Regions from separate parts of the Homo sapiens genome. Here all the other regions are linked to region 3. Evidence: fine-mapped expression QTL. A gene starts in region 3. Each other region holds a variant in brackets. All regions are shown on one strand. Distances are between the middles of the regions.

What was found. PIP is the estimated chance that this variant, and not a neighbour inherited with it, causes the effect.
Region 1: its variant is fine-mapped to the expression of ADHFE1 in CD4 T cells (Kasela 2017, PIP 0.90).
Region 2: its variant is fine-mapped to the expression of ADHFE1 in whole blood (TOPMed, PIP above 0.99).

The regions. Positions count from the first base shown.
Region 1 is chr8:66,457,922-66,468,770 of GRCh38, forward strand. It overlaps ADHFE1 (alcohol dehydrogenase iron containing 1), which reads left to right. Exons shown (of 14, transcript NM_144650.3): 13 at 2,387-2,544; 14 at 10,348-10,849. The coding sequence ends at 10,431. Among named protein-coding and RNA genes, the nearest start is that of VXN, 30 kb to the right of the region's middle. RefSeq lists an enhancer at 123-651. The variant T/C (reference allele first, on the strand shown) is at 7,261.
Region 2 is chr8:66,860,334-66,871,182 of GRCh38, forward strand. It overlaps C8orf44-SGK3 (C8orf44-SGK3 readthrough), which reads left to right. Exons shown (of 19, transcript NM_001204173.2): 19 at 1-1,689. It overlaps SGK3 (serum/glucocorticoid regulated kinase family member 3), which reads left to right. Exons shown (of 17, transcript NM_001033578.3): 17 at 1-1,689. MCMDC2 (minichromosome maintenance domain containing 2) reads left to right here and starts at 10,438. Exons shown (of 15, transcript NM_173518.5): 1 at 10,438-10,498. RefSeq lists an enhancer at 10,655-10,724. The variant C/T (reference allele first, on the strand shown) is at 5,416.
Region 3 is chr8:66,430,560-66,435,559 of GRCh38, forward strand. It overlaps ADHFE1 (alcohol dehydrogenase iron containing 1), which reads left to right and starts at 1,945. Exons shown (of 14, transcript NM_144650.3): 1 at 1,945-2,016. The coding sequence starts at 1,958. It overlaps RRS1 (regulator of ribosome synthesis 1), which reads left to right. Exons shown (of 1, transcript NM_015169.4): 1 at 1-174. It overlaps LOC102724687 (a long non-coding RNA gene), which reads right to left and starts at 1,807. Exons shown (of 5, transcript XR_929013.3): 1 at 1,725-1,807. RefSeq lists an enhancer at 1-22 and a silencer at 1,779-2,198.

The sequences.
Region 1 (10,849 bases), 30 kb after region 3:
AACAACTGGAAACTTTTTTTCACCAAAGCCTGCAAAGGTCCTGATCAATTAGAAACTTTATAAAAATATCCTGAAAGAGGAGTCTGTTTGCCATACTGTAGAATAAATAATGTCAATAATAAGATATCCACAGTACCTTTTGAATCTTACCAGAAATAAAATGATATTCAGGATAGCTTTAATGGTAAGTAAAATGTTGGTGTTTTGCTAATACAAGAACTCTTTTAAGTAGACTTGAATATTTTATTAACTTGCAAAACATCTTATTCCGCCACTTGTGTTTAGTTAGGGCAAGAAGGGAAAGGCTAAAAAGAAAACTTCATTATGCTCTCCTAGCCCAGCCGTTGGAGAGATTATTTCCAGGGAGGTAGGAAGGACCGCAGACATCCTCCTGCAGGAGCTCCCGCTGAGTCCCAGGTGCTGTGCTGGGAATGTTAATGACACAAGCCCAGGGCAGAGAGGGGCCAGGGGCTCCATTTCCCAGAGGGTGCTGAGGGGAAACAGTGCAACTTTGCCAAGGATCTGTGTCCCTTTTCTCTTTCGGACTGGAGATGTTGTTCAGCCATATTTTGGGACTCAGCTGCCTTTGTGTATATTCAAAGCATGTAAATAAGAAGAGAGAGCGCAAATCATAGGCTACATTTATGATAAATGGGAAAATCTTAGAGAACTTAAAGTTAACACTCTAGGCAACTAGCAACACTACTGAGAAGGGAGTTCCTCTGTTAGACAAATTCCAGGCTGGAAGAACCCACTGATTCTTCCTTCTTGAATGGGAAGTTTTAATGTTATCTACACTTAGCTATCCCACACGATGAAATATTTTGATTCTCCATGTCATCTTAGATTTCTTAGCTTAGAATACTGATGTATTCTTTTTCCTACCATCTCTTTTTTTTCTGTAACACTTCATAGGAAAATGCAGAGATTTCGATGGTGTTTTATGGCAGTATTCCCAGGAACATTAAAACTTCATAAACTTCGTATCATGTGTCACCACTCCACCTAATCCATATTTTAGCTGCCGCTGGGTAATACAGACTGGTCTTGTCAGGCAAGGTTTACCTTTCATCCGGCTGCTCTCCCAGCCAGCCCCGTATCTGGTTCTATTCATACCTTTTCCTGGATTCCTAAGAGTTCTCACTGTCATGGAAGAGAAAGCTAAAAACCGATTTAATAATGTGCTTCAATATGGAGGTGAAAGTAGTCACGATCTCCTTTTGAACAATACAAGAGAAAGTGGACTTAGACTACTGTGGGAGGCATTTTGCATAGACTTCATATAATGCTACACTCTGTAGAGGGCTTTACTTCTTGGCAGTGAATGTGTTTGGCTAGAATATATGAGAATGTAGGGTGCTAAGGGTTGTGAAATCAGTTCCCTTCCTCTGGGAACTTTCTCTGTCACCCTGCCTGAGGGCAGAACCTCCCGCGTGGCTCTTCCAGATTGCCATTTCCATGATTATGTGCATTATTTTTTAATTTTTATTATATATATATATATATATATTTTTTTTTTTTTTTTAACAGAGACAGGGTCTCACTGCTCAGGTTGGTCTTGACCTCCAGGACTCAAGTGATTCTCCTGCCTCAGCCTTCCAAAGTGCTGGGATTACAGATGTGAGCCACCAGGCCCGGCCTCTTAATTACTAATCATGTAAAAATTCTGCCCTTATGTATCTTCTTTCATCAATACCATTATTATCTGCATATGAAACGCTGTTTTCTGAGAGCCTTCATGTTCTTTGGTCCTGCCCAGCTGGTTCTATAATATTTATTTAGAGGAACCTACCCTGCCCTTTGGCAACAGAATCTAAAATTAAAAGTTTTATAGCTATAGAGGACAAAAATTTTCCTCCCTGTTCACACATAATCCATTTTTATCATGCTTATTTTCTTTTTGGTGGTTAATTTTAGAGCTTTTGTACTTCTGTAAGCTTGTCTCACAGGGTGTTTGCAAAGGATTTGTCTTTTTCTAAGATGTTGCTGTGGGAAAAGACGTTGAACACATCATACACCTCTAGATGTCAGCAAATTCCAAGCCTTGAAATTACATAAGCTGTGTGTTCTTCAAATATTCATTCCTCCATCCCAGCACCAGCCGACTTTCTTGCCTTGTTCTGCACCTCTCTTCTTGTCTTTGTTCCTCTTCTTCCTACCACACAAGGGGCAAGTATGTAGGACTTGGCAGCCCCTCCGAAATGTCAGAGCTAAGTGAGCTCCCCCAGCCAACTTGGGCCCTCCTGGGGAGGCACACGATGGCCCCGTGCTGGGCGTTAGGGAGACCCCGTGGGTGTGCATGGTGTATTCACTGATCTTGTGACTGAACTCCACCCAGAGCCCGTTTCTTCCTCTCTCCCTACAGTCAGCACTTTATGTCTTCTAGGAGCCGACACCCGCACTGCCAGGATCCAAGATGCAGGGCTGGTGTTGGCAGACACGCTCCGGAAATTCTTATTCGATCTGGATGTTGATGATGGCCTAGCAGCTGTTGGTTACTCCAAAGCTGATATCCCCGCACTAGTGAAAGGAACGCTGCCCCAGGTAAGAGACCGGCAGGCTCCTCACTCCCTGCGAAGGAGCCTAGCGCCTCCAGAAAGACATGCTGCATTGATGGCGGGCTAGCAGGGATGGAAACCAGGGCTCCCCGGTGGTTCTCGGGTCTCCTCCACAGCAGACAGCAGTTCTGTCCTTTCCTGGTGCAACAGGGCCAGGCCCTCGCCTTTCTGTTCATCCATACAGCTGTAGCTGAGGTGAGGCTTTTATGAAAATTTTCATGAAGGGATGGATCCTTTATGAAAATTCAAGGCAAAAACAACCAAACTGATCTTGAACTATGGCAAAATTTCCCTTTTCCCCATTTCTGTTCTTTGAAGGGCTCCTATAAATAACTATGTGAAGCTGTTCCAAAAGGACCACCAATATTATTTTCCATTGTAAAAGAGTTCCAGGTCTCTACTATTTTGTGAAGAATAGGCATAGCCTTTCAATTAACACTATCACCAAATTGCTTTCGATGAATGTGGGAGATTGTATACTTGATACATATCTGTGTCACTATGGGTCTGATTTCATTTCTTAAATTTTTGTGAAGAATGTGAATGGAGCTGCATCCCTAATTCGGTAGAATCATACTAGGTGTAAAGTTTGCTCTTCTGAGGTTCTCATGAAGAACTCTGATCCCTCAGTGGACCTCTCTTGAGCTAGCACATCAGATCCTAATAGGCCAAGGTCCTGTTCATTGCAATTCACCATAAAGCAGAGAGCTCAGAGCATGAGTGCTTGGTTGGTGGACCACACCATAGTCGCCATGCCCAGAATACTCCTTTAGTCCTCTTGGCCAATATGGGAAAGGCAGAGGTCACCTCAATGCTATGAGGGTATGAGGATAAGGATCTTCTGCCACAGGCTAAGGCATTCCCTGACCATGGAACAGAGTTAGCAGCTGAAACATCCACTCACACAGCAGCCTGCTTGCCACAAGTGCTGGTGCTTTTCCCTCACCCCACTCCAAGTAGGCAAGGGCCTCAAACTAGCTTCTTCCTCCCCACTTCGCTAGTGCTTAGAATGTTGACAGCCTCACCACTCACTTAAGATAATATTTATATAGATTGTGTTCATAGACTCATGTGTCCACAGGAGCCAGGTAGAGAATAGCAGTGAACAATGTCATGTAAGGCCTTAGGGAGTGGTGGGGACTTTGGTAAGCCAGAAAGCACGTGACCCATCTAACTGGGTGAGCAGCTCAGCTGCAGTTTATCATCACCAAGCAGAAGATCAGGTCCCAGTGTTGGTAGAACTACCAACTCTCAAGAAAAATCAGCAATCCGGATGTTTGTGTTGAATTCCCTGGTTTCCAATGCACAAATGAAATGTAGTCCGTGAACCACCAGTTTCCCTGATTTGGATTCAGGCTCAGTGAATTCAATTGCATCTACAAATAGAAATGAACAAGAAACAAAGGAGTCTCAAAGTATAGGAGAGACCCTGGGCTAACCCACAAACCCTTAATTCTAACCCATACGTCCAAGGGACCAAATCACTAAAAAAATCACACTCTCTAACGCCCTCACAGTTATTTTATCCAAGCCTACCAGCCTGTAAGTCCTGTGAGGGCAGGAATCTGTCTGCTTGGCTCATCCATTTTCCATTGCACCTAGCACAGGCTAGTAAACATGTTAAACGAACACATACCTCCATTCCTCTCCTCCTAAGTCCTCTGTCTAGGTAAGCTTTAATGGCTGACTGAGGATAACTTTTTGAAAAGTTTCCTTAGACTGACTAGGACTCAACCAAAGACAGGGGAGCCATGAAAGCTCAGGGACACCGTAGACTGAGTGGTCATAGTGATTTTTTCCGGAGGGAGGGACAGGGCTGGAGTGCAGTGGCATAATCACAGCTCACCACAGCCTTGACCTCCCAGGCTCAAGTGATCCTCTGTCCTCAGCCTCCCGAGTAGCCAGCACTATAGGTGTGTGCCACCATACCAGGCTAATTTTTTTAACTTTTTTGTACACAATAGGTCTCACTGTGTTACCCAGGCTGGTCTTGAATTCCTGAGCTCAAGCAATCCTCCTGCCTTGGCTTCCCAAAGTCCTAGGGTTATAGATATGAGCCACAGTGCCTGGCATTCACTGCAATTTTAATGTAGCTTCTGGCTTTATGGCATGGTCCCAGTGACACTGTCCACCCTGCAAGGGGCCTTCCAAAAGGTTCTGTTTGTTTAGCCCAGGAAAGTGTTCAGGAAAATGTGTGGGTCCATCTCTAAGAATGGTATCCATGATTTTCAGATGAAACTGTCTGATACCCTTGGCGATTTGATTGCTGACCATCAGTACACACTGACAGGTGTTTACTCTTCTAATTCTACTGTGGTCAGACTGTCACTTTCTTTTGTTTGTTTTGTTTTTTGTTTTTGAGACAGAGTTTCACTCTCATTGCCCAGGCTGGAGGGCAGTGGTGCAATCTTGGCTCACTGCAACCTCTGCCTGCCGGGTTCAAGTGATTCTCCTGCCTCAGCCTCCCGAGTAGCTGGTATTACAGGCACACACCACCATGCCCAGCTAATTTTTGTATTTTTACTAGAGACGAGGTTTCACCATGTTGGCCAGGCTGGTCTCAAACTCCTGACCTCAGGTGATCCGCCCACCTCAGCCTCCCAAAGTGCTGGGATTACAGGCGTGAGCCACCACAACTGGCCCAGACTGTCACTTTCAAAAGCTATTCCACGTAGCAGCAGATCCAGCTTAACATTTGAGACCACTAAAATAGCACTAAATTAACACTAAAATAGCAACTTAATTAGGTATCATTCTGAATGCCTCAGTGCACATGCAATACTGGGAAATCACAGATAGCAAAATCTTAATTGGACAAAACCAATTTCTTAGTTTTACAAAAATGGGAGGTAAATGGAATCTTTTGGATATAAGTTCTGTCTTAAAGTAGGAAGCCAGATTTTCCTCAGGCTGTATTCATAAAACACCCCAAGGCATCTGCTGCCTTTTTTCCTCTGATCATGTTTTCATGATTCAGAGAAATATAGTTAATTTTAATTAAACTAGCCCTAGGTTCATTTGGAGTCTACGTGATTGAGATATGTGTATATTCACAGATCGATAGGACTTTGGTAGGAATCTTAGAAATAAGCTTGTCCATTTTGCAGATGAATAACTACTATGGAATTTTGTTTGTTTGTTTGATGGCAGTGACTGTTTTACAGGAATGCTGTGGCCACTTCAGAGTTTTACACATGCAATAGACTAATCTTCGCTTATTAGTATCTCCAGGATTTAAGGTAGTGAGAAGAATATACTGGCTCCTCCAAAGAACGTCACCAGAAAGGTTATTCAATGTAGTTGACATTTGATGAAGGTTCTTTTCTGTTCAGCAGTGAAGGATTGGTTTTCTCTGGAAGAAACAACCAGGCCAGTATTCTTGACCAAACACAGCCCATACTGGTGGCAGCTAATAGCAGCCCTGTGTACAGAGGCTTTCAACTGCCATAGCCAGGCTGCAAGGGGAGCAGGCAAGAATATATTAATCTTCCAAGCTGGATTTCTAAAACCCCTGGAAAGAAACATTTACATTTCAAATCAAAACATTTCATTACTGAGGAGCGCTGTCTACCCAAATGAGCACTTCCACTCCCTGGTAGACAGGCCAGCTGAAATGTTGTTATTTCATGAACGTGCTAAAAGTAGATGTCTGAATTTATTTCGTTCCCATGTTAATGAGTTGTCCTTCACTCTTACATGCCTATAAATAATAGCACATCATTGCTTAACATATCTTAATTCTGAGAGAGTTTAGCTTTTTTATGGCAGAGCTGATATGTATAGGGACATATCACAAACTTTATGTCCTTGTCCTGTTTAACCAATCACTGGGGGCCAGAAACGCGAAACAGAAACTCAGCTCAGGCTTGGCTTCAAATACTTCTAAGAGTCCTGCACCGCTCCACCAAAGATAAACAGGATCATGTCAAGGGCCTTTGAGCTCATCAGATAAGACTCTCTCCCATTATGAACAACGTAACTTGCCATCATCTGCAGTTACAGCAAACACTGAACTTCAGTTCTTGACCCTGCACAAACACATACATAATGAGACCCTCTGCCTTGCTATGGATTTCCAAAATTCCTTAGGGTCTCTTAAAAATCTGCTGGGATGTGAAACTTTGTCTTTACCTCACCCATACTCATAGGCATTGTCCCTCACCCCTCTCTCATCTGTCCCTCTATCCTTTCTTCCTGCTTTAACTTATCTTTTAAATTGTGATAAAATATGTATAACATAAAATTTACCATTTTAACCATTTTTAAGTGTACAATGCCATGCCATTAAATACATGCACAATGTTGTGCAACCATCACCACTATCCATTTTCAGAACTCTTTTTTTAATCATGCCAAACAAGTGGTGTGTCTGTTAAACACGAATTCCCCGTTCTCCCCTTCTCACAGCCCCTGGGAACCTCTGTCCTACTTTCTGTCTCTATGAATTTGCCTATCCTAGGTACCTCATGTAAGTGAAATCATACAATATTTGTCCTTTTGTGACTGGCTTATTTCACCCAGCACAGTGCCTTTAGTGTTCATCCACGTTGTAGCATGTGTCAGAATTTTATTCCTTTTTTATAGCTGAATAATGTTCCATTGTATGGATATACTACATTTTGGTTATGCATTTACCTATTGATAGACACTTGGGTTGTTTCCACCTTTTGACTATTATGAATAATGCTGCGATGAATATTGG[T/C]GTACAAGTATCTATTTGAGTCCCTGCTTTCAATTCTTTGGGGTATATACCTAGGAGTAGAATTGTTGTATCATATAGTAACTCTATGTTTAACTTTCTGAGGAACTGCTAAACTGTTTTCTATAGTGGCTGCACCATTTTACATTTCCATTAACAGTGCACCAGGGCTTCAGTTTCTTCACATCCTCAACAACACTTGTTATTTTTCTTTTGTGTGTGTGTAATAGCCATTCTAATGGTGTGAAGTGGTATCTTATTGTTTTGATTTGCATTTCCCAAATGACTAAGGATGGTGAGCATCTTTTCATGTGCTTATTGGCTATGTATATATATATATTCTTTGGAGAAATAACTAATCAAGTCCTATGCCCATTTTTGAATTGAGCTGTTTGAGGTTTTTTGTTGGTGAGTTGCAAGAATAATTTTTTTCTTTTTTTGAGACGGATTCTTGCTCTGTCATCAGGCTGGAGTGCAGTGGTGCAATCTTGGCTCACTGCAACCTCCGCCTCCTGGGTTCAAGCAGTTCTCCTGCCTTAGCCTCCTGAGTAACTGGGACTACAGGCGTGCACCACCACACCCGGCTAATTTTTGTATTTTTAGTAGAGATGGGGTTTCACTGTGTTGGCCAGGATGGTCTCAATCTCTTGACCTCATGATCCACCCGCCTCGGCCTCCCAAAGTGCTGGGATTACAGGTGTGAGCCACTGTGCTCAACCAGAATAATTTTTATATCCTGAATATTAATCCCTTATCAGATATATGATTTGCAATTTTTTTTAATTTTGTTGTCTTTTCACTCTCTTGACCATGTCCTTTGATGCACAAAAGTTTTAAATTTTTATTCAGCCTAGTTTATCTGTTTTTTTTTTTCTTTTTTCCCTGTGCTTTTTCTTTTTTTTCTTTTAGAGACAGAGTCTTGCTCTGTTGGCCAGGCTGGAGTGCAGTGGTGCAATCTCGGCTCACTGCAATCTCCACCTCCCAGGCTCAAGCAATTCTCCTGCCTCAGCCTCCTGAGTAGGTGGGATTATAGCTGCCCACCACCACACCCAGCTGAATTTTTTTTTTTTTTTTTTTTTGTATTTTTAGTAGAGACAGGGTTTCACCATGTTGGCCAGGCTGGTCTCGAACTCCTGACCTCAAGTGATCCGCCTGCCTCAGCCTCCCAAAGTGCTGGGACCACCGCACTGGACTCCCTGTGCTTCTGGTGTTACATCCAAGAAATCATTGCCAAAGCCAATATTCCTAAAGATTTTTCCCTAATTATTCTTCTAAGAGTTTTAGGGTTCTAGCTCTTACATTTAGGTTTTTGATGCATTTTGAGCGAATTTTTTTAATACATCCATCCTTCTTTTCATTCCTTTTACCAGACAAAACAAATACCTACTGTATACCATGCATTGTACGGTATACTAAAAGAAGGAAAATAAAGTCCCTTTTCTCCTTTGTGAAGCTTACCTTCTAGTGAGGGGAGACAGTGAACATCTATAAATAAGATGTAAATGAAATCATTTCAGATAATGATTAGTGTATGAAGGAAAACCTGCATAAGGAGATAGAGAGTGATCTCACGGGGAAAGTGTGGAGAGATCTCCAGCCAGGGTGTTGGGAAGGTGCATGATGATAGGCCAATGCTTTCTAGGCAGAGGGGAAGGGCCCTGAGGCAGGGTCAACGTTAGCATATTCAAGGAACTTAAAAGGGATGGTGGGACTAAGTGAGGTGTTAGAGCTGGGGCAGGAAACAGAGCCAGATCGGGGTAGCCTTAGAGGCCATGGTTTTGTTGTAATTGCCACAGGCATTTATCTGCGAGCATTAAACACAGGAATGGTAGGATTCAGTTTATACTGGAAAAAAATCACTTTGGCTGCTGTGGGGAGAATGACCTCTGGGGGGCAAGAATGGAGCAAAAGTGGAAACAGACCTTTCAGGAAGCTTCTCAAGCTGGACAGGCGAGTGATAGCAGTGTCCTGGATTCCGGTTGTGGTACCACAGGAGGTGAGAAGCGCTCTGACTGGGGCTTCATTTTGGAAGTAGGACTGACACTCCTGCTGATGAGTTGAACTTGCAGAGCAAGGGAAAGGGGAATCAAGTGTGGCTCCTGGGTTTTGCCTGAGCTACTGGGTGTCATTTCTGAGATGAGAAAATGGTAGGAGCGGTGGGGTGGGAGAGTCAGAGTTCTATCTTGTATATGTGAACTTTGAGACTCCAGTATCCCCCTCCCCACCATCTTCACTAATTCAGCAGATAACTGTTGAGCATCTACTTACTATGTAAAGCCCTCTGGTAGGCGCAGGGCAGAGAGCAGTGCACACAGCTGAGCCCCTGGCCTCACAAGTTTCCCTTCCACTAGCTACACTCCCAAACACATGCCAGCAATAGAAAACATGCCCAGAGACCCATGAAAATGGAACCTCAAAATGGACATTCCTCAGTTTCATGCAGGTGCCAGGGGAGTCATCGCTGTACATTTTAGCCCCTGTCCCCGAGAAGCTACTGACCAGAGTATAAATAGAAGTAGGATGTGCTGGATGTCTTCGCTGAATTGACTCAATAATCATTGGAGAAATTAACAAATCACTGGATTTGCTTGGGAACATAGAGATAAAACCTTAGTTAATAGAAAAAAACGGAGTCACTTGTTGCACATAGCATGAACATTAATGTTCTACTGAAGTCCTTTTGAATATGCCTTAAGTCCAAGTTGCAAAATACATGGTCTTAGACTTCGGGGACGACCCAGTTCTCTCTCAGAGCTCTGTGTGTACAGAGAACCTGGCAGAGGTGGTTGACTGACCTAGTTTTGTCATGATAAGGGTGTTTTCCCCAAGATTGGTTTCGGCAGAAGGCTGTTGCCAGGGCGTAAGGCAAGGGGCAGTGGCTTTCGAAAGCTCTGTGGGGAAAGAGGTATGATGTGATAAACCTCTGAGATGGGGATCAACTCATATGAAGTATACAAGAAATACCGTTTTTAAAGATATGGCGTTTATCAAGTCATTGATTCTTATGACCAAGTTAATTTCCATAACTTTGTAGCTTTTACAAACTGCCTTTTCAAAGCCCTGGGTAACTTCTTTCATTTACTGTTTCAGGAAAGGGTCACCAAGCTTGCACCCTGTCCCCAGTCAGAAGAGGATCTGGCTGCTCTGTTTGAAGCTTCAATGAAACTGTATTAATTGTCATTTTAACTGAAAGAATTACCGCTGGCCATTGTAGTGCTGAGAGCAAGAGCTGATCTAGCTAGGGCTTTGTCTTTTCATCTTTGCGCATAACTTACCTGTTACCAGTATAGGTGGGATATACATTTATCTTGCAGGAAATTCCCCAAAGCTCAGAGTCCAGTTCCTTCCATAAAACAGGCTGGACAAATGACCACTATGTTAGACCCCCAGGCTCGACTTCAGGGGTCAGTGTTCCTGTCCCAAACCCCACACAGAATACTCTGCCTCTGTTTCATGTAGCAAATGAGCAAAAACTCAGTATCTATCAAAAGTGTAAATTATATTTCCTATGCCTAGTAATTCACTTCATGTCTAAAAATTTATCTGATAGAAACACTAGCACCAGTACATACAGAAGCATGGCAAGGATGTT
Region 2 (10,849 bases), 430 kb after region 3:
ATCCCAGCTACTTGGGAGGCTAAGGCAGGAGAATCGCTTGAACCCGGGAGGCGGAGGTTGCAGTGAGCCGAGATCGCACCATTGCACTCCTGCCTGGGCAACAAGAGTGAAACTCCATCTCCAAAAAAAAAAAGAAAAAGTAACAAAAGGAAATTATTTGTTTTTGAAATACCAGTTCAACTTTGTGGATTATTTTTCCTCTGAAGGAAAAGAAAAGGCTTAATGGTTAGGATTTTTAAGTATTCCCAAAGATCTGAAGGGTAATAAAATGTACTGGATTTTTTAAGGTGGTACCAAAAATGAATGTCTGTCATATATTTATATTACAAATACATTATATTTATGTTCTATTCATCTTTTGAATGTTTAGTATGCTATTAAGTCATTCTGAATCTTTGTATTTGCTTTTGCAAATAGGTATTTCAAAGCTCTTTTCCTAACTGGTTAAGTAAAATAAAAAATTGAGCTTTCTAGAATATTTGCCTAATTGGGAATTAAAAAGTAAAATAATAGGCCAGGCATGGTGGCTCATGCCTATAAGCACCCTGGGAGGCCGAGGCAGGCAGATTATTTGAGCTCAGGAGTTTGAGACCATCCTGGGCAACATGGCGAAACCCTATCTCTACAAAAAATACAAAAATTAGCCAGACATGGTGGCACATGCCTTTAGTCCCAGCTACTCTGGAGGCTGAAGTTGGAGGATGGCTTGAGCCCACGAGATGGAAGTTGCAGTGAACTGAAATTGTGCCACTGCACTTTTCAGCCTGGGTGCCACAGCGAGACCCTAGTTAAGAGAAAAAAAAAGTAAAAACAAATTGTGGGTCAAAGTAAATGTATACAGTTTTATTACAATGTAACAAAAGTTGAAAATCAGGCAGATGTGTATTCAGTATCCAATTCAATATATCTTAGAAAAAGCACAGGAAACAGACCTTAAAATTGTAACCTACCAACTAACTTACATGCTTATAAAAGTAAAGGAGAATAACTGGCCGGGCACGGTGGCTCATGCCTATAAAATTCCAGCACTTTGGGAGGCCAAGGCAGGAGGATCACTTGAGCCTATGAGTTCAAGACCAGCCTAGGCAATGTAGTGACACCTCATTTCTATTTATTTTAAAAAAAAGAGAGAGTAACTACAGAAGAACTTTAAAAAATAAAAAATAAGCTTACCTTGGATTCTTGGCTTAGAGTAGAGGTTTTTTTTAAGTTATGGAGGAAACATTTTTGTAAAAGTTTAATGACCCACTTTAGATGCTCCAAGAACAAGCATCCCTTCCATGTATGTCTTGAGAAAGAAATCACAGAAGCATTTCTCACCAATACTCTTTGGCTTAAAATGTTCAGCAGAATTGGGCAGTGGGGGTGACTTTTCTTATATTAATAATATTTACATCCAATACACTGAATCTTCCTTTAGAGGTAAGACTTTAATATCTATACTGTAAATATTTGGTTTATTTGGCACTACTGTAAGTTTTGTTTTTCACAAAGCTCTTATTATGAAGCAAAATAAAAATTCTAGTTTCTTGTATGATTTTTTGTACTCATTCATTCCTGTTAAGCTGCCAAAAATTAAAGTGCAATATTGTATATTTTTAAGAACAAATTTAAAATAGAATTTTGATGTTTCTCAGATCACAAGAAATACAAATCTATATAGTATAATAAAATCAGCAAAAAGATCAACTAATGTCTGTCATTATTTGAAATTGGTAATGGTTGCAATGGTCATTATAAAATGAATTATTTATATGTGTGTGGGGGAAAAATAAAATGTGAACAGAAATTATTTGGACACATGAATTACTAGATTATCATAGGCTTATGTGTATAATATTCAGAGAGCAAAATGTTTTCTAAGTTTCAAGTTTACCTTTTCTCTCATAGCATAAGTCTTTTAGGAAAATGTATGCCCTTTGAATAACCATTTCATGGTTATTATCAAAATATACCAAAGGTCTAAATGAAGACTATAATATTTTTAATGTTACCCATACCTCCCATTTTATTGCATATGGTACAAAATAGGGCTTCCCAACCATTGTCACATCATAATACACACTGAAAATTACCAAATTTGTCACACTTGGGGAATAGGTGTCCAACGATGCAGACAGTGGTAGCAGATCCTCTGTATGAAGTTTTCATATGCAATTTACAAAGAAAGCCAGCAAACTGTTCAGATATCATTTCAGCAGGAGTAAACATTTGAATGAGAGTTTAAATATTCTGAATTTTTATCACTGAAAAATTTATCATTACCAATATCTTTAGCATGTTTGTAACAAATATATTGATTTTCCACAGCCAAATGATACTACAGAACTGTACACAAACATTTTGTAAGTCATTCTTTTGTGTATAATGTACTCTATGAAAAGTAGGGATAGGCATGAGCATTTTTGGTAATGCTGTAATGACCTTTTCAATACAGTGTTAAAATTGATAACTTCATCCCTCATACAAGCAGTTTGGAAATTAGGTCTGTTTTTTAAAGTGGGATTTCCCATTCATTCATTCATTCATTTATTGAGACTGAGTCTCACCCTGTTGCCCAGGCTGGAGTGCAGTGGTGCAATCTCGGCTCACTGCAACCACCACCTCCCAGGTTCAAGCGATTCCCGTTCTTCAGCCTCCTGAGTAGTTGGGATTACAGGCATGAACCACCACACCCAACTAATTTTTGTATTTTTTAGTAGAGACAGGGTTTCACCATGTTGGCCAGGCTGGTTTGGAACTCCTGGCCTCAAGTGATCTGCCTGCCTCGGCCTCCCAGAGTGCTGAGATTACAGGCATGAGCCACCATGCTAGGCCTAGAGGAGGATATAACAATTCTAAATATATGTGCACCCAACACTGGAGCACCCAGATTAAAAACAAAGCAAATATTACTAGGTCTAAAGAGAGATATAGACAGCAATACAATAATGGGGAATTTCAATATCCCCCTCTCAGTATTAGATCACCTAGACAGAAAATCAAGAAACACTGAATTTAAACTGGACTTTAGACAAATAGACCTATCAGATATTTACACAACGTTGTATCTAACAACTGCAGAATATACACCCATTTCTTCAGCACATAGAACATTCTCTAGAATAGACCATATGTTAAGCTACAAAAGAAGCCTCAACAAATTTTTAAAAATCAATGTATCAAGTATCTTCTCAGACCACAATGGAATAAAACCAGGAATCCATACCAAGAGTAACTCTGGAGACTGTAAATATGTGGAAATTAAACAACATGCTCCTGGACGACTGACCGACCATTGGGTCAACAAAGAAATTAGGATGGAAGTGGAAAAAAAATTTTTGAAACAGATGAAAATGGAAACATGACATACCAAAACCTGTGGGATGCAGCAAAAGCAGCACTAAGAGAAGCCTATGGTAATAAATGCCCACATCCAAAAAGTAGCAAGGTTACAAATTAACAATCTAACAATGTACTTCAAGGAACTAGAAAAAGCAAGAACAAACAAAACCCAAGATGAGCGAAGAAATAATAAAGATCAGGGCAGAACTAAATGAAATAGACTAACCAATATAAAGGATCAATGAAGTAAGTTGGTTCTTGGAAAAGATAAAATTAATAAACTGCTAGCGAGACTAGCCAAGAAAATAAGAGAAGACCATCCAAATAATCAGAAATGAAAAAGGAGACATTACAATTGATACCACACAAGTAGAAAAGATTATCAGAAATTATTATGAACAACTATACATAGGAAAACTTAGAAATGGATAAATTCCTGGAAACATAAAACCTACCAAGATTGAATCAGGAAGAAATAGAATACCTGAGCAGACCAGTAATGAGTAGCAAGATTGAATCAGTAACAAAAAGTCTCCCAACAAAGAAAAGCCTATGACTGAATGGAATCACAGCCAAATCAAAATGATAATACACCACAATCAACTGGGATTTATACTTGATCCTATGTCAAGTATATGTAACAGATGCAAGGATGGTTCAACATATGCGAATCAATACACATGATACATCACATCAACAGAATGAAGGAGAAAATACATAATCATCTCAATAGATGGAGAAAAAGCATTTCATAAAGTTCAACATCTCTTTATTATAAAAACCCTCAACAAAACAAGGCATAGAAGGAATATACCTAAAAATAATAAAGGCCATATATGATAAACCCAGAGGTAATATAATGAATGGAAAAAGTTGAAAGCCTTGCCTCTAAGAACTGGAACAATACAAGGACGCCCATTTTCACTACTTCTATTCGACATAGTTCTGGAAGTCATAGCCAGAGCCATCAGGCAAGAGAAAGAAAAAGCATCCACGTTGGAAAAGAGGAAGTTAGGCCAGGCACAGTGGCTCACATCTGTACTCCCAGCACTTTGGGGGACCGAGGCAGGTGGATTGCTTGAGGTCAGGAGTTTGAGACCAGCCTGGCCAACATGGGGAAACCCCGTCTCTACTAAAATACAAAAATTAGCTAGGCGTAGTGGTGGGTGCCTGTAATACCAGCTACTAGGGAGGCTGAGGCAGGAGAATCGCTTGAACCCAGAAGGGAGGCAGAGGTTGCAGCGAGCTGAGATGGTGCCACTACACTGCAGCCTGGGTGACAGAGCGAGACTGTCTCAAAAAAAAAAAAAAGGAAGTTAAATTGACCCTCTCCACTGATGATGTTTTTTTTCTTTTTAGACATGTTCTTGCCCTGGTGCCCAGGCTGGAGTGCAGTACTGCAATCATGGTTCACTGTAGCTCAATCTCAGGCTCAAGTGATCCTCCCACCTCAGCCTCTAAAGTAGCTGGGACTACAGGCACACACCTGTAGTTTATCATATGTGATAAACTAGCCAGTCATGCCTGGCTAACTGCATTTTTAGTAGAGATGAGGTATTGCTGTGTTGCCCAGGCTGGTCTCGAACTCCTGACCTCAAGCATTCCTCCCTCCTCAGCCTCCCAAAGTGTTGGGATTACAGGCATGAACCACCACGCCTAGCCTGATCCTATATCTAGAAAAACCTGGCCAAGCACAGTGGCTCATGTCTGTAATCCCAACACTTTAGGAGGCCAAGGCAGGCAGATCTCTTGAGTCCAGGAGTTGAAGTCCAGCCTGGCTAACATGGTGAAACCCTGTCTCTACAAAAAAATAAAAAATTATCCAGGCATGTTGGTACACGTCTACAGCTACCTACTTGCTCCCCAAGTCACAGCTACTTGGGGAGCAAAGGTGGGAGGATCGCTTGAGCCCAGAAGATCAAGGCTGCAGTGAGCTGTGATTGCACCACTAATGCACTCCAACCTGGGCTGCAGAATAAGACCCTGTCTCAAAAAAAAAAAAAAAAAAAAGAAAGAAAGTAAAAGACTCCACCCCAAAACTCTTAGGTTTGAAAAATGAATTCCGTAAAATTGCAGGATACAAAATCAACA[C/T]ACTAAAATCAGTAGCTTTCTTTTTTTTGCTGGAGTCTCACTCTGTTGCCCAGGCTGAAGTGCAGTGGCGCGATCTCGGCTCACTGCAACCTCCACCTCCTGGGTTTAAGCGATTCTCCTGCCTCAGCCTCCCAAATAGCTGGGATTACAGATGCCCGCCACCACGCCCGGCTAACTTTTTGTATTTTTAGTAGAGACACGGTTTCACCATGTTGGCCAGGCTTGTCTCGAACTCCTGACCTCAGGTGATCCGCCTGCCTTGGCCTCCCAAAGTGCGGGATTACAGGCGTGAGCCACTGCACCCAGCTAGTAGCATTTTTATACACCAATAATGATCTAGCTGAGAAAGCAAGTAAGAAGGCAGTTCCATTTACAATAGCAACAAAGCAGCAGCAACAACCAAAAAACACCTAGGAATAAATGTAAATAAGGGGGTGAAAGATCTCTGCAAGGAAAACTACAAAACAGAGAGAAATTGAAGATGACACAAATGGAAAAACATCTCGTGGATCATGGATCAGAAGAATTAATATCATTAAAATGACCATGATGCCCAAAGCAACCTATAGATTGTATGCAATTCTTATCAGAATTAGAAAAGCTATCCTAAAATTCATATGGAACCAAAAAAGAGCCTGAATTGCTAAACAAAGCCTGAGCAAAAAGAGCAAAGCTTGGCTGGGTGGCTCACGCCTATAACCCCAGCACTTTGGGAGGCCAAGACAGGAAGATGACTTGAGCCCATGGCCACAAAGAGAGACCCCATCTCTACAAAAAAATTTCAAAATTAGCCAGGCATGGTGGCATGTGCCAGTAGTCCCAGCTTCTCGGGAGGCTGAGGCAGGAGGATCACTTGAGCCTGGGAGTTCAAGGCTGCAGTGAGTTGTGATCACTCCACTGCACTCCAGCCTGGGTGACGGAGAAAGACCCCATCTCAAAAAAACAAACAAAAAGAAAAAAAAAAAGAACAAAGCTGGAGGCATCATTACCTGACTTTAATATATATTACAAGGCTGGCTGGGCATGATGGCTCACACCTGCAATCCTAGCACTTTGGGAGGCTGAGATGGGCAGGTTGCTTGAGCCCAGGAGTTTGAGACCAGCCAAGGCAACATGGTGAGACCCTGTCTACAAAAAATACAAAAAAAATTAGCTGGGTGTGGTGGTGCACACCTGTAGTCCCAGCTACTAGGGAGGCTGAGGCAGAAGGATCTTCTAATAGATTTTTCTGTATTTAATACATCCTTTAAAATACCTGTTAAGTCAGGTGTGGTGGCATGCACTTATAGTTCCAGCTATTGCAGAGGCTGAAGCGGGAGGATCCCTTGAGCCCACGAGATGGAGGTTGCAGTCAGCTGAGATGGCACCACTGCATTCCAGCTTGGGTGACAGAGTGAGACCGTGTCTAAAAAAATTTTTTTTAATTATCTGATGAAAATATGTCATGGCAAAAATAAACAGAATTTAAAAATTAAAATTAAAAGAAAGCTTTGAAAAAAATTTTAAAAATAAAAAATTGGCCAGGTGCAGTGGCTCACACCTGTAACCCCAGCACTTTGACAGGCCAAGGCAGGTGGATCACCTGAGGTCAGCAGTTCGAGACCAGCCTGGCCAACATGGGGAAACTCTGTCTTCACTAAAAATACAAAAATCAGCCAGGTATGGTGGCAGGTGTCTGTAATCTCAGCTACTCAGGAGGGTGAGGCAGGAGAATCACTTGAACCTGGGAGGCGGAGGTTGCAGTGAGCCAAGATCAAGCCATTGCACTCTAGCCTAGGAGACAAGAGCAAAACTCCATCTCAAAATAATAATAATAATAATAATAATAATAATAATAATATAAAAACAAAAAATAAAAAATAAAAGCTTTGTGTTTCTCAAAACTCAAAAACTCATAAGACAATATGTAAGAGCCGTTCATTTTGCTACATATGAATTATACCTCAATGAAAAATATTAAAAGGCAAAAAAGCTATATGAAAGGCAAAAATAAAAATAATTCATAATTCTACCACCTTAATATTTGAGCCATTTTACCAGATTGCATGTAATTTCTTTCTGCTGTTTAGTGATGTTTTGTAAAAATAAAGTATTGTAAGTATGTAGCAATAAGCAGCAATGGCATTTTGACTCTAGATATCGCTATCATTTTCAGAGAGTTTGCAATGTATAAAATGTGCTGAATTCTTAAGGTTTTAAATTCCAATTTTAGGTCTAACAGATTTTTTTTTTCTAAGAGTCTCACTTTTTACCTAGGCCAGAGTCCAGTGGTGCAACCATAATGCACTGCAACCTCCCACTTCAGCCTCCCTAGTAGCTGGGACTACAGGTGCATGCCACCATGCCTGACTGTGCAGATATTTTATAGGATGTATTAAATACATAAAAATCTATTAGAAGATTTTGCTGGACTTGGTTGATATAAAACTATTACTCTGGTGCAGAAACGAACGATGTTATGCTATGAACTGATTAATCAAAACTTTAAAATAGCCAGACGCGGTGGCTCATGCCTATAACAATCCCACCACTTTGGGAGGCCAAGGCAGGAGGTTCACCTGAGGTCAGGAGTTCAAGACCAGCCTGGCCAACATGGTGAAACCCCAACTCTACGAGAAACTCAAAAATTAGCCAGGCGTGGTGGCATGTGCCTGTAATCCCAGCTACTCGGGAGGCTGAGGCATGAGAATTGCTTGAACCCAGGAGGCAGAGATCATGCCACTGCACTCCAACCTGGGCAACACAGTGTGACTCCATCTCAAAAAAAACTTTAAAATATATGGATACCCTCTAGAAGAATTTATTCTACTTTAAAATACAATGGCCATCACCAGACCATAGCCTATTCCCATCTAAAACTGTAGTTATTACCACAGAATTGTAGTACAAGACAATTTGAACATCCTCATTGTTGTTGTAAATTGATTTCTACTCTGAAAAAGTATTTTATCTCACAACTAAAATAGATTATATTCTCCCAGAGAAACAAACTCTGAGGTGTTTTGCCACTCCTATTATATATGAAAAGGGATGACCTCAATTACTTTTTCATGGAAAATGATCCAACCCAATGCAATGGAGCAGAGTTGATAACTGTATCAAGAACACTAAAGGTTGAGGCCAGGCACGGTGGCTCATGCCTGTAATCCCAGCACTTCGGGAGGCTGAGGTGGATGATTGCTTGAGCCCGGGAGTATGAGACCAGCATGGGAAACAAAATGAGACCCCTGTCTCTACGAAAAAAAATTTACAAGTTTGCCAGGCATAGTTGAAGTCTTAGCTACTTGGGAGCCTGAGGTGAGAGGATCACTTGAGCCAGGAGATTGAGACTGCAATGAGCCCTGATTGGGCCACTGTGTCCTGGGACACAGGTAGACCTTGTCTTAAAAAAAAAAAAAAGGAAATACTAATGGTGGAGAAGCAGGTACAATTTAAGGGTTTGGGGTTTTTTGGTAACAGTTTCTTTTTTTTTTTTTTTGGAGACAGGGTCTCGCTCTATCGCCCAGGTTGGAGTGCAATGGTGCGATATCTGCTCACTGCAACTTCTGCCTCCTGGGTTCAAGTGATTATCCTGTCTGCTAATAGTATTAATCCAGAGTAGCTGGAATTACAGGCGCGCGCCACCACACCTGGCTAATTTTTGTATTTTTAGTAGAGATGGGGTTTCACCATGTTGTCCAGGCTGGTGTCCACTCCCGACTTCAAGTGACCCACCCGCCTTGGCCTCCCAAAGTGCTGGGATTATAGGCGTGAACCACCGCACCCGGCCAACCTCAATAAGATTTAATTCAAGTACTGTACAATTCAACTATTTAAAATGTACAATCAACTGGCTTTCAGTAGATTCAGAGTTGTGTGACTATCACCACAATCAATTTTAGATCATTTCCATCACTTCTAAAAGAAAACCTGTGTGAATTCATGAACAACAAAAAATATGGTACACACACAGTGGAATATTATTCAGCCTTAAAAAGGAAGGAAACTCTAACATGTTACAACATGGATGAAACTGGAAGATGTTTGGCAAAGTGAAATAAGCCCATCACAAATGGACAAATACTGTTTGATTCTATTTACATGAGGTACCTGGAGTAGTCGAATTCAAGGAAGCAAAGACTGATGGTTGCCAGGGGATGAGGAAGAGAAGAATGGGGAGTTGTTTAATGTGTATGGAGTTTCAGTTTGGGAAAATGAAAACAGTTCTACAGATAGTGGTGATGAGTGCACAGTGTGAACGTAGGTAGTGTAACTACACTTTAGGATGGTTAAAATTGTATATTTTATGTATATTTTACCACAATTTAAAAAGAACAAGAAATCCCATACGCATTAGCAATCATTCTGCATTCTCAACCAACCTCTGGGCAACCACAAATCTGCTTTCTTTCCTTATGGATTCGCCTATTCTGGACATTTCATATAAACAAAATTACACAACATATGGCCTTTTGTGTCTGGCTTCTTACATAGTGTTTGCCAGGTTCATCCATGTTGTAGCATGTATTAGTGCCTCATCACGTTTTATGGCCAAAACCATTCCATTGTATGGCTTACACCACAGTTATCCATTAATCGGTGATGGGCATTCATATTGTTTCCACTTTGGGGCTACTATGAATAATACTATGAACATTCGTGTAGAAGTCTCTGTGTGAACATATGTTTTCAATTCTCTTGGGTGTATTTATAAATACCTAAGAGTGGAATTACTGGATCATAGGGTAACTTTATGTTGAGTCCTTCGAGGGAATACTGGAATGTCTTCTAAAGTGACTAGACATTTTGCATTCCCTGAAGCAGCGTTTTGAATTTTTTAAACATAACATCATTTGCCTGAGATAACAACAAAAACCAAACGTAGACCTATTTTTTCTCTGCTTCGCTGGGAGGGAGCAAGAGTGAAGCTATTAAAACGTAAGGGAACAAGCCCGGCTAGTTCCCCTGCTGACCCGAGGGCGCGGGCGGTCCCGGCAGGCCCCGCGACGCAGCCAACGGCCGGGACGTGCGCGCATGCGCGCTAGGACTCCGCTCCGCCTACGCTGCAGGCGGAGAGCAACCGCCAAGCTTGGTGGGAGTCAAGGTGAGTGCAAAGCACTACAGCGCTGGGGTCCCACTAACTCGAGGTCACCGCTGTCAGTGGGAGGGGTCCTCATGAGTCTGGACTCGCTTTCATCCGCTTTGGTTGTGAAGTGTTTTCCTGCAGTCTTCCCCTCACCAGTTCATCCCCGGTGCTGACAGGGCACGGAGAGAAGACAGAATCCGCGCCTGTTCCACGTGCAGCAACACTCGGCGTTCGTTAGACTAAGGGAAGACAGGGAGTTAGAATTTTATCCCTGTTCCCTCACTTAACGCTTTTCCACAGGCTTCTATGTCTTTTCCCGACTTAATATGCCTCCGTGAAAACGCGTCCACTCCCCAGGGCCTCCGCTTT
Region 3 (5,000 bases):
TATTTCAGAGACTTAGATTGACGTATATGTTTCTGCATTATTTTTACAACAAGTTTGTGTATCAGAGCGGGAGTGCGGGGGAGGGAAAGAAAACAAACAGTTTCAGAATTGAATAGGCAAGTGACTGTTTTAAAGATTAAGTAATAAAGATGTCTTATCTAGTGTGACTTTTAACTTTCTGACTACTGGGTAGAAATTGTACTTGAAGCCGGTTACCTGGATACCTGGTACAGATTATTTTTGTTTACTTTCTGAAAAACACAAAGCAGGCCGTGCGCAGTGGCTCACTCCTGTAGAGTCCCAGTACTTTGGGAGGCCGGGGCGGGCGGATCACCTGAGGTCAGGAGTTCGCGACCAGCCTGGCCAACACAGTGAAACCCCATCTCTACTAAAAATAAAAAAATTAGCCAGACACGGTGGCTGGTACCTGTAGTCCCAGCTACTTGGGAGGCTGAGGCAGGAGTATCGTTTGAACCTGGGAGGCGGAGGTTGCAGTGAGCCCAGATCACGCCACTGCACTCCACTCCAGCCTGGGCAACAGAGGAAGGGGCCATCTCAAAAAAAAAAAGCAGTTCAATTATAATGGTTTCAGTGATACCACTTCTAAACTTATACTTCTTTTGGTATCAAATATAATATTCAAAGTAGTAAAACTGATGTCTGTTTTTTAAAAAGATTTTATGCCTTTCAACACTGAACACATGGATTTCCTGTAAATGATCAATTTGGGCTTCATTGACTAATGGTAATAATCCTCATTAATCCAGAAAACACTTAAATCTTTCTCTACGTTTATATCCCCAGTTGTTTGTGTGTGTGTGTTTGTTTTTAAGCTTGACGTCAGGTATAGTTTTGTTTGGGGGAAGAAAGAAACAGACCCATAAGATCCTTAATTAGGACATTATTATCTTTTTTTAAGTTCCGGAGTAGATGTGCAGGATGTGCATGTTTGTTACATAGGTAAACGTGTGCTGTGGTGGCTTGCTGCACCTATCAACCCATCACCTAAGTATTAAGTCCCTCTGCCCCCTTCTATCCCCTGCCCCCAGGCCCCAATGTGTGTTGTTCCCCTCCCTGTGTACATGTGTTCTCATAGAACATTATTTTTTGATTCATTTGTCAAGTTGGCCTGAGCTGGTTTGATTAGGAGGTGAAATGTTTATATAGCTGTCCTTGGTCTTCCTGTCCATCAATCTTTTCCAGTTTGATCGCAGTAAATTCATTTCTGTAAAACTTAATATCTCCCATAAAGGATTCAGATTTCATAATAACAGATTACTAAAAATGCAAATGTTTAGTTGTTACTGTCTTTGGATACTTTCTGATAAAGTTGAGCTTTATCGTTAATCAGCTTTTCCACTGGGACATGGCAGATATGGCACAGCCAAGCCCTCCCGGAGCATAGTCTAATCATGGCAAGTTTTAACTATTGATGTAAGAGTTTTAACTATTGATTTTGCTTTCATCAAAAGCAAAGCCATTCACACAGTATTTAACAAAAACCCTCGGGCTCTGCTAGGTTCTTGTTTACTGTTAAAACAGTTTAAAGGCAGGGTCTTGATCACTTAAAATACTCTTAGAAGGGAAAGTAACATTTTAAAGGATTAACAGTGGAAAAAGAATATCCCTGTTCCTCTTCCTTCCCCCAAGTCCTCAACATGTGAAAAATAGAGTTGATAAGTAAGGAGATTTAAGGCAGAACCCGAGGCCTACGGAGCAGTTACCTTCTACGGCAATTTCAAGGGTGGATGGTGCGAGCGCCGCTGGGGCAGCTGGCGTTCTGGTTCTTACTCCGTGGGAAAATGGCCCTGAGCCCGACTGGCTTGAGGCTTAGACAGGTGACCCCGCGAAGCGGGTGGGCAGGCGCGGCCGAGGGGCGGGAGGCGGGCAGCCTCCGTGATTGGCCGGCGGAGGGGGCGGTGTAGCGACCCGAGGAGGGAAGAGGACTCCAAGCGCCATGGCCGCTGCCGCCCGAGCCCGGGTCGCGTACTTGCTGAGGCAACTGCAACGCGCAGCGTGAGTGCGGGGCCGGCGGGCGGGCAGGGGACCGCAGGGTGCCCACGCAGCCCCCTGGGTGTGACCCGCTCAGATCCTGCGCAGTCTTCTCCGCTTACTTTCAAGAATTCGGAGAATTTGGATACCGCCCTGGGCTCCCACCGCGCGCCAGGCGGAACAGCGAGGTCACAGAGTGCGCGATGCAGCCTCTCAGGGCGCAGTGAGGCAGCCTTTACTCTGCTTGTCTACCGTTAAAGAAACTGAGGCCCAGAGAGGACCTGGTCCCACATCGTAGCAGGCAGTGGAGAGCTTGGCACGGTGGCCAAGACAAATTCATGTATGCAATTGACACATATTTATTGGGCATATATTATGTGCCAAAAACTATTCTAGGTTCTGGGGATACAAAGATGAAAGGCTCTGGAGCAGTTTGAGGTCTAGTGGGGAATGGGATGAGGGGACGAGGCTAAAACCGGCTATAGCAGACTGGGTGTAGAAGGGAAGGATGGATGTGAGAAGTCGCAGAGTCACACTTCCTGGCATGTACAGGGAGTCAGGGTATTCAATGTCATGACACGCCTGCCTCCCAGCAGAAATGTGAGGTACATCCTGGTCACCTGATAAATACTTGCTGACTGTGCAAGTGCACAAGTCTGCCTGGGAAACATGGAAAAGTTTGAGCTCACAGGTGCAGATCAGTAGGAGGAAAGGCGAGGGACTGGCGAGGAACGTCAGGCAGAGAGAAGAGCAACACCAGCGATGGAGATGCAGTCCCAGGACACAAAAGACAAGTAGACCTACCTTTATAAGAGGAGGTAAAGATGGAGAAGACGGCTGATAAAAGACCATGAATAAGAATATAGCTAATACGATGAGCCCGGCAGTGTCTTACACACTTTGAATGGACTATCAGTATAATAGTAACTCTAATCCTTTCACTGACCCTATGACACACGGTATTGTCATCCTCATAGATACGGAAATAAAGGCATGGAGAAGAATTTGTCCAGTGTCACACAGCTAAGCAAATGGCACAGTCATAATTTGAACCCAGATACTCTGGCTTCACAGTCCTTGTTCTTAGGCCTGTAGTAAGGAATTTGAATTGTGTGCTGTAGATAATGGAAAGCCATTGAATAATATTTGTCACCATTAAACACTGATACCTTAAAATGTCCCATGACAAAAGAATTACATGGCCAAATAAGTTTGAGAAGCTCCTTACTGCTGTATTGCCCTCTTGGAGAATCAAAATATACATTAGACATGCAGGGCTCCAAGAAGCTACAAAAAATACTAAAGCTGTGTTCAAATTTTTGGTTGTAAACCTGTGTCATCATAGAACTCTTTGTCACACAACACCATTTATATCCCATGGAATCAGTGTCACACACAGAATATGTTTTTGGAATGGTTGCATGAAAAGGGAGTATGGCATAATCAGAACTGTGTTAGCACATTCTGGTGGAAATGTGGAGTGAAGAGGAAGGACTAGAGGTCATTGTCCTGCTCCAGCCTGAAGATAATGGCTTCATGCACGGAGAGGCAGTTCCTTGGGTAGATAGAAATGCTGAGAGGTTGGTTAGAATCCACAGGATTTTGTATCTGAATAGTGAAGAGTTGAGATTTCTGGCTTGGGCATCAAGTAAACAGTGGGCTCATTTACCAAGGCAGGGATTGTAGGAGAGTTAGTGTTAGGAGGAAAATGGCAACTTCAGTCTAGGGCATTTTGAGTTGAGCATGCTTCTGGTACATTCAGATGGAGACCCCAGTAGGTGATTGAATGTATTGTTCTGGGGCTCAAGAGTGAGTTGGGAACACATCCATCCATGCGTATGGAGGACAGTTGAAGCCCTAACAAAACTCTAACCTAGAAGGAAACAGCTGAGGGTGAATTCCTGGGGAGCAGCACTGCCACAGCAGGAGTAGCAAGATGGTGCTTTCTTCTGCACATGCTTATTATTCTAATAGGGTAAACATTTTAAAAGTGGGAGATTTCCAATGAAAATCTTGGAAAATTGGAAAATGGCATCATTGGGCACATGTTTCATCTGGGCAAAGTGGGCTAGGGCACGGGGTGATGTGTGGCCATTTCTATTGGACAGAGCATGCACTCTGGGCTTCTGCCCAACACATTCCATAGAGCAACTGCGCTGACAACTGAATGGAGGGGAAAGAATCAGCACTGAAGGAGACAGAGGCAAGGCGTGCACTGGCCAGAGAGGTTGTGGGAAGGCCCTGGAGGGCAAGAGTCACATTCCGTCTCCAGATGTGCAGCCCTGCACAGGGTGGTGGGTGCCCATAGTCCCAGCTACTCAGGAGGCTGAGGCAGGAGAATCACTTGAATCTGGGAGGCATAGTTTGCAGTGAGCAGAGATCAGGCCACTTCACTCCAGCCTGGGCTACAGAGCAAGACTGTGTCTCAAAAAAAAAAAAAAGATGTGCAATGCAGCCCTGCTTTGACTGTGTTATCTCTGGGGTACAGCAGGGAACAAAACAACCTAACCACACCATGCATGGGGCACAGGGGATAGATGACAAACTAGTTAGTAAAATTGAGAGTACATTAGCTGTTGAAAGTTATTACAGAGAACATAAAGGAGGCTGGGATGTTGAAGGAAGGGATGCAATTTTTGAGGTGTTCAGAGCAGCCCTCACTATGTTAGTTTCCTACAGCTGTTGTAACAAACTACCATGAACCTGGTGGCTTAACACACATTTGTCTTAACAGTTCCAGAGGTCAAAAGTCTGAAATGAGTTTTACTAGGCTGAAGCCAAGGTGTGAGCAGGGCCACACTCCCTCTTGAGTAAGGCTCAGAGGTGCTGCAGAATCCACTTACTTGCTTTTTTCCAGCTTCTAGAGCTCTACCTTCGGTTCCTTAGCTTGTGGCCCCTTCCTCCATCTTCACAGCTGGCACTCATCTTGCTTCAGTGCTCACATTTCTGTCTTTTGGGTCAAATCTCCCTCTGCCTCCCTTTTATAAGGCTATGAGTGATTGCATTTA